2 linked regions of the Homo sapiens genome follow. The protein of the gene in region 2 interacts with the protein of the main gene of each other region in a biochemical or structural test. Each region holds a gene or a part of one and is shown on either strand. Other genes may lie near its edges. The genes, in order: MARCHF1 and SLC25A17.

Evidence for each region.
Region 1: the proteins of SLC25A17 (region 2) and MARCHF1 form a complex in vitro, tested with the Homo sapiens proteins (one study listed by BioGRID).

What each region holds. Positions count from the first base shown.
Region 1 is NC_000004.12:163,524,200-163,527,321, forward strand, and holds the end of MARCHF1 (E3 ubiquitin-protein ligase MARCHF1), read right to left. Parts: 3' UTR 519-3,122; downstream 1-518. UniProt on the Homo sapiens protein: E3 ubiquitin-protein ligase that mediates ubiquitination of TFRC, CD86, FAS and MHC class II proteins, such as HLA-DR alpha and beta, and promotes their subsequent endocytosis and sorting to lysosomes via multivesicular bodies.
Region 2 is NC_000022.11:40,768,838-40,774,374, forward strand, and holds the end of SLC25A17 (peroxisomal membrane protein PMP34), read right to left. Parts: intron 5,183-5,537; coding exon 5,100-5,182; intron 2,145-5,099; coding exon 1,997-2,144; 3' UTR 793-1,996; downstream 1-792.

The sequences.
Region 1 (3,122 bases), on a different chromosome or scaffold from region 2:
GGGTGTTAAGTTCAGATTTCCATTTTGGGCAGAGGAGTTGGCTCATATAATTAGCAGACTGGTAGAAAGCCCTGTAGGTCCTTAGAAGTTGGACATTTGGAAACAGCTTTGTTTTTTGCTATCACCAAACCTCTTAGATTCTAATATCTTGCTTTTAATGTTTATTATCCATGCAATTATCTGAATCCACTATTATCTCTGAACAGAAAAATGCTGTTATATGCTTATTTTTCTATATCCAAGACTTATTCTTGAGACAGTCCCGCTTTAGATTACATTGTGATTTCTCTTGAACTCTTTTTTTAAAGCAGGTTTGAAAGTCCACATAGTTTATTTTCATTGGTTTCCCTCTGTTTGTGTATTTATTTATTTGTACCATGTCATGAGTTAGTCAACGTAGGTTTGCTTTAAAATAATTATATGTTCAGACCCTTGTAAAATCTTAAAAAATGTATGTGTGTTTGGATGTTGCAAATACAAATATCAGTCTGTTAGGCAAAAATTGTGGAAACCACAACTAAGGTTTGCGTCACTTGTTTAATATACAAAGTCTTTCACAGATAATTATTTTCTTTTTCTTAATTTGCTTTAGTACACATGATTCACAAAACAGTAAATTGTTAATGCAAGAGAATTATGTAAAACCAAAATAGTACAAATGCCTAATTTCAAAAACTGCACACAGTTAAAATAATTTTTCCTTCTTTGTTTTAATGCAGTATCCAGTTTCAAAATGGGCTTTCTTTAGATGTGGAGGAAACACTGCAGCCCAAAATAACAGTACTTCCTTTCAACTGTGTTGATATGTAAAATAGCACCATTGGGCTGACTTAGGAAAGAAAAAAGGTTTTCATCTTTCTTAATTAAAGTATTATATAACAACTATAATAATAATGATACTAATAACTTTTAAGAGCTGTACTCTGTTCTATAATATTCATTTTCAAGGCAAGGAAGGGTAAACTATATGGGGCAGATAGAAAAATCTTCCCACCTCAGCCCCAGGACCCTTATAATGTCCCTTAATGGTGTCATTGTTCTAATGAGCTAATTTTCCTGCCAAAGAATAGATGTTTTAAAGAGTACCCAAGGACCTTTTGTAAAACAAGATAAAAAACCATGAGGTCGTCTGTCTGGGACTATAATCACGTGTAGAAGCAGCGCAGAGTGAGATTTAATGCTGGGGTGTTTTGAAAGACTCCTTCAGTCTACACCTATCTTCCTTCAGGTTACACATTGCTGTATCTCAGGTTGTTGGGCTCACTTTAGTTTAGATTTTGTTCATTTTTATTTTGTTTTTGTACTTAAGCTTAATTGCCTTTTGGGCTTTACTTTTTAAAAAATTGGAATTTCTTTCTTTTACAATTTAATCTTTACTCCTGTACGATAAGAGTGATAGTTCTTTAAAAAAATTAACAGCATCAATGTCTGGTTTAATACTGAAGATTCATGATTATAAAGAGCCAAGGTTTTTAACACAACTGTAATTTCATTCTTCAATTTTAGTCCTTTTTTTTTCAATTCCATTTTATTTCTTCCACGAGCAGGTAAACATGCCTCAAAATTTGCATTCCGTAGAGCAGTTTTTCTTTTTGAAGGGTATAGTCAGTCAGTCTACAAAAAAGCACTGCCACAAAGCTAAATCGTTTTATTGTTTGAAAGGGCAAATGTTCCATTGCCACACAGAATGTAAAAAGAAAATAATCAACATTAGATTTTAAATGCAGGTAGTTATTTCAGATGTTTGAACCATAAACAAACAACCATTGCTGAAAAGCTTCTTAAAAGCTTGAAATTCAGAACTTCAGGGTTTCAAAAAGTCAGAAGAATAGCAAAATCAAGTGTTGACTTTTAACCTGCCAGGAAGCTATATTATATTATTTTCTCATTTCAACAATGTCCAAGCCCATAAAAGTTAATTGCAAGAATTTAGGTATAGTTTTAAAATCCCATGTCCTCTTTTACTATTAATAGAATAATGCTTACCTTTGCTTTTTATTCTAGAAATGTTTTCTTAGTGTTAAAAGTGTAGCCCTTAATAAATGAGGCTTTATTTTAGCCGATCATCCTCCACTGTGAAATCAGCCCTGCAACGTATCTTGTTTAGGTTCGTACAGAATTTAAACAATATTTTCCATGTTAATTAAAGTAAATAATTATTTTACTTTCAGAGCAAACAAAAGAGAAATCAACATTTCTTTGTTTGCTGGTGTCTGGATGTTTTTCCCCGGGAATATCTGTAAGCAGCATGTTGCCATTACTAACCCACAGGGAAAATGGATTAGTAAAAAGCTTAGGACAATTAACAGGAAAATTGCATTAAGGTTAATCCCTTGGATATGGTGCCATGGTTAAATCACCCACAGATTTGTTATTCATAAATGTATTTATCTTAAATATTTAAAATGGGCATTTAAGAGGAATTTAATATACAGTTTGTTTAAGGTCCACATGTTTTTTAAAACGTTAATTACTTATATCCTTATTTATACAGAATTTTTGGTTCAGTTTAGTTACCTCAACTTTGCTTTCCCTGTGCTTATAACAAGTTTTAAGAAAGATGAGTTTTAAACCTTTTGTTTCCTGACTGAATACCTTAACATTTTCCCCGCATATATACATGACTACACACACGCCATACACACACACAAAATTGACATTGTTTACCTTTTGTTTATTTCTAGGAATCAAGACTATCTGGACTCAGTGTCAGCCACTACTAATATTTATACCATCTTTCTCCTCATTTAAAGGTTTGTTTTTTTTTTCCCTTTTTCCTATGATCTGTGAAGAACAAGCACACTGATAATTACAAAGTGCATCCATGTGATACCCAGATTTGTGCAGTGTGATACTCATGCTTTGGTTCTTATGGCCATCATTGCCTTTTCATGTTAATAAATAATGACAGCTAACAAAAATAAGTCACCTTTTTTAATGTAGGACATCTTTCTTTGACAGGCTACTGTATCTATAATCACCGTTAATCTAGCTCACTGCAATGTCATTCACACATCAGTTTTACATGAATATGCAAAGAACACAATAATCAACTGTCAAACCTAAACGATTAATTACTTATCACAGAATCTGTTGAATATTTTTGTTTTCTAACTGAGCAA
Region 2 (5,537 bases):
AACTAGTGAGTTTGTAAATTTCCATAAGGAACATAACCCTCAATGTTAAATTGTTTCCTCATAAAATCAGAAAAAGAGAAGCATCAAATACATTCTCACATCATAAATACCTAATACAGCTATATAATTCGAACTGGAAATTATCCTAACAGACCAACTCACAATATTCTGAGCTCAAAATTCAAGTTCCAAAGGGAACGGCATAATTAAAACAATAATGAAAATACACATGACACCTTTATGATCATTTTTCTCCTATACAGAAATCAAAATAATTTTGTACTTCCCACTCAAGGTCTGCCACAGGCACACAAAAACCTTAAAGTAAAATTAAAAAATAGAAAAAACAATTCTGTCTTCAATTCTCTGACTTAAATAGGGGATGAATGTTCAGTCTTCTTCCCAGATTATTAGCTCCTGCTAATTTTTGTTTGCTAGAACAATGCAATGATCTTTAACAATCATATACTTTGAAATTACCACAGGGACTAAAGAGAGGAAATAAGAGAAGGAAATTTCCACTCTCAAAATTGAACTAAATCCTTAATAATGAAGTATTTCATTATTACTCTCTCTGACTAAATCATGGACTTACAAATGAAAAACCCGCCATTTTGTCATAGGGACAAAAAGGAAGTCATAGAAATCCAAAGAACCGCTCTGCTAATGTCAAGTGAATTTGCTTCCTGAGTGGGTCGAGATATCTAAATCCACTCCTGGCCGCATAATAAAAGCCTTACCACCTTAACAACGTGCTGTGAGGTGAAAGCAAAAGATGACATACGACTCCTAGATTTTTCAGAGGTTGTTTTAATACATTAATCTCTTTCCTTTGAGAAAAATCTTTATCTTGATGTCTATAATCGAAACCAATCACTTCTTCTCATGGGTCAGGGGTCCTATGGTCTCCTGAACTTTAATGTGGCTGTGAATCACCTGGGAATGTTAAAATACGGAACAGGATTCAGAAACTCTGGGTTGCGTGCCCAGCAAGCTCTCAGCTTGTGGCAGTACTACCGTCTGATGGACCACACTGAGCAACAGGACTCTAAGGAAGGTTTCCAAATGAAATAACCTCAACCAGATGTTTATTTTCAAAATATACGGCCTACACCAAGTTTATAAAGGGAGATAATATCCAGACCTCAACAAGATATCTGCTCCCCTTCTCATTTTTGTGATTTTTCCCATCTGGTTGCAAACTCAACGTAATACCTTAATAAAGAGCAATTTTCAAGAATATCTTTTTTGTGCTGACCATTTATTGGGACTTGACTGACCAGGGCTTGTAAGAATGGACACAAAACTTCAAGTCTTTCGTAATGAAAGGATTGATTCAAAATAAATATTCTAAAAATTATGTCAAACACTAATGAATAAGTGACATTTACAAATAGTTTATAAGAGAATCATTTGGGTGAACAATTTTCATTTCACAAAATAAATAGCTCATATCCAAAAAAGACACCTCTCCTTAAGCAGGGAAAAAAAAGCCCAACAAAAATAAAGTCATGCCCGTGGCACAGCCCTAATGTTAGTTTTAGGGAGGAAAACACCAACACTGAGACATACAAAAGTATTTGAGGAGAATTACATGTTATTAAATTTGTCCTAGAACCTGGGGGAGAGTTCAGGGAAAGAGAACAGCTGGTATATTTAAGAAAGATTTAAATAGAAAACATTACACATGAGAGCAAAATAGTCCATTTCTCTTAAGAAAACCAATAAACACTCACAAACTTTCATTTTTAGGTTTTCAGCAATGTTTTTTTCACATTAGTCCAACTGCCACCCCAAAATCCAACCAGCCAGCATGACAATTAAGGTGACAACAGGTCCAGTTGGCCATACTCCCTGTGCACCCTTGGATGCTTTTCAAGCCAATGAGGGTAACATTTGTGGTGGCAGGAGCCAGAGTCAAGGGAGAATCACTTCTCTTCACTCAGGAGGAAACCTCCCTCTTGAGCATCTTCGGAATTTTTCATGGGAAGGCGTCTCAGTGTTGGTGTGCACGCTTCAGCCCCATAACTGTGAAGGTGGCAGCTGTCAGTTTCTCATAAACAAGGAACATGAGAGCAGCAGTGAGGACTGTCTGCAGCAGTTTGGCTTCAAGGCCTTTGTAGAGTCCCATTATTCCAAAACGTCTAAAGGGAAAGAGGTTTGAAAAAACAGAAGTCAGCTCCTGCATCAGAGAACATGCTACCTAGATAGCTACTTTGATAAGAACAAGCAATAGAGGTTTTAGATTTCAACACAGACTTCTGTTGTCAAAGTACTTTCCTTTTTTTGAGACGGAGTCTCGCTCTGTCGCCCAGGCTGGAGTGCAGTGGCGCGATCTCGGCTCACTGCAAGCTCCGCCTCCCGAGTTCATGCCATTCTCCTGCCTCAGCCTCCCTAGCAGCTGGGACTAGAGGCACCCGCCACGACACCAGGCTAATTTTTTTTTGTATTTTTAGTGGAGATGGGGTTTCACCATGTTAGCCAGGATGGTCTCGATCCCCTGACCTCGTGATCTGCCCGCCTCAGCCTCCCAAAGTGCTGGGATTACAGGTGTGAGCCACCGTGCCAGGCCCTAGTTTTTGGTTCTTACAAATAATGTCTTAAATTTGGAAGCAAGCTACATGTCCATCAACAGATAAATGGATAAAGAAAATGTGGTACTTATACAAAATGCAGTACTATTCAGCCATCAAAAAGAATGAGAGTTTGTTGTTTGTAACAACATGGATGGAACTGGAGGTCATTCTGCTAAGTGAAACAAACCAGGCACAGAAAGACAAATATCGCATGTTCTCACTTATTTGAGGGACCTAAAAATCAAAACAATTGAACTCATGGAGATAAAGGTAGAAGGATGGTTACCAGAGACTACTGGGAAGAGTAGTGGCGGGGGGAAGGTGGGGATGGTTAATAGGTACAAAAATAGATAGTTTGAATAAGACCTAGTATTTGCTAGCACAACAGGTGACTATAGTCAATAATAATTTAATTGTACATTTAAAAATAACTAAAAGAGTATAATAGGACTGTTTGTAACAAAAAGAATAAATGTTTGAGAGGATAGATACCCCATTTTCCATGATGTGATTATTATGCTTTGCATGCCTGTATCAAAACATCTCACATACCTCAAAAATATATACCTACTATGTACCCACAAAAATCAAAAATTAAAAAATTAAAAAAAAAAAAACAAAGCCATTATTAACATTTGTATACAAGCTTTTGTGTAGACATATGCCTTCATTTCTCTTGGGTAAATACCCTGAAGTGGATGGCTGGGTCCTATAATAGGTGTGGTATATAAAAATTTTTAAAGAAAATGCCAAATTGCCTTCCAAAGCAGCTGTACCATTCTATATTCCCACCAGCAGCATAAGAAAGTAAGTTCTGGTTGCTCCAACATCCCTCCCAATACTTGATATAGTGAGTATTTATTTTTTACTTTATACATATTCTTTGTCTTTTATTTTATTTTATTTTTTGATAGAAGGTCTCACTCTGTTGCTCAGGCTAGAGTGCAGTGGCACAATCACAGCTCACTGCAGCCTCGACCTCCTGGGTTCAAGCAATCCTTCCACCTCAGCCTCCTGGGTAGCTGGGACTACAGGCAGGCACCAGGATGCCTAGCTAATTTTTTATTTGTGTAGAGACGGGGTCTCACTATGTTGCCCAGGCCAGTATCAAACTCCTGAGCTAAAGCGATCTGCCTGCCTTGGCCTCCTAAAGTGCTGGGATTATAGGTGTGAGCCACCACGCCCAGCCTAATTTTGTCTTTTAGTCCCTTGAATGTTCTTTTTTTTTTTTTATTTTTTTTATACAAGGTCTTGCCTCTTTAGCCCAGGCTGGAGTACAGTGGTGCCATCATAGCTCAGTACAGCCTCAATCTGCCGGGCTCAAGTGAATCTCCTGCTTCAGCCTCGTGTGTAGCTGTGATTACAGGTTTGTGCCACATGCTTGGCTAATTTTGTAAATATTTTTTGTAGAGACAGGGTCTCACTACTTTGCCCAGGCTGGTCTTGAACTCCTGGCCTCAAGCTATCCTCCTGTCTCAGCCTTCCAAAGTGTTGGGATTACAGGCATGAGCCACTTTGCCTGGCTGCATATTTTATTTTAATAATAAATTTATTTTCAAAGTATCTTGTATCTAGGAACAGTAATAAAGTTATAAGAGCTTTTGCTTCAAAGGAGGTCCCTGACTTATCTGACTTCACTAAGTGTCAGTTTCTTTAAATGAAACAGGAAATGACAATAGTTCTTAACTCACAGAGCTACTGTTAGGATTGACAAGGCTGGGCGCGGTGGCTCACACCTGTAATCCCAGCACTTTGGGAGGCTGAGAAGGGCAGATCACGAGGTCAGGAGATCAAGACCATCCTGGCAAACACAGTGAAACCCCATCTCTACTAAAAAATACAAAAAATGAGCCAGGCGTGGTGGCAGGCGCCTGTAGTCCCAGCTACTTGGGAGGCTGAGGCAGGAGAATGGTGTGAACCCAGGAGGCGGAGCTTGCCGTGAGCGGAGATAGCGCCACTGCACTCCAGCCCGGGCAACAGAGCGAGACTCTGTCTCCAAAAAAAAAAAAAAAAAAAAAAAGGATTGAGATTACCTATGTGTAGCCTCTAGGTCAGTGTCTGCCACATGGCAAACCACTGAAAATGTTAGCTACTCTTACCAACACCACCATCATCATTATCATCATCATCATCACTATTATCACTTTTTCCACTGCCCCCTCCCTTCTCCAGTACTCCTATTCTATAGGCAGATGTTATATTGCTAAGAGGCATCATAGGATATGCCACTGATGAAAGCACACTCAGGGTGACTGAAGTATAGAAGGGTTCTCTTTCTGAAGGAGTTCTGAATATTTGTAACTAACAAAGAATAAGAACCTGAACTTTTCCATAATTTCCCAAAATGCTGTCATACTGTACTAGGCTCCTAAAATGGGAAATGTCTAAGCACAGCAAGCAAGGGAAAGGTTTTGGAGGTTGCCACCACCAAGGCAGTAGTGTGAGAGAGGGAAATGCAACCCCTCCCTGGCAGAGATGGCTGCTGAAGGAGAGCACGGAATGTGAGGCATCTACAAAGCTCACCTTACTCGTTGGTGAAGAAGATAGAGAATATTCCGAAGACTTCCCAATGTTCTGTTTTCTGGGTTTAGTCTATGACGCCCAAACTGAGGAAAGAGGGAAAAAAAACAAAAGTACTGTTGCTGTTTTTTAAAATCTTCATTTTTACCTGGGGAGGATATTATGTTGGAGTAGTATCTTATAGCATACATTAATAAATTTATCCAATTAGTACCATAGATTTCATTAATCCTGTATTTTTCAACTGAGTGAAATATTTCAATCAAATAAGTGAAAATAAGAAAAATTTTTCCTTTTTTTTTTTTTTTGAGACATCTTCTCACTCTGTCACCCAGGCTGGAGTGCAATGGCACAATTTTGGCTCACTGCAACCTCCACCTCCCAGGTTCAAGTGATTCTCCTGCCTCAGCCTCCCGAGTAGTTGGGATTATAGACATGTAC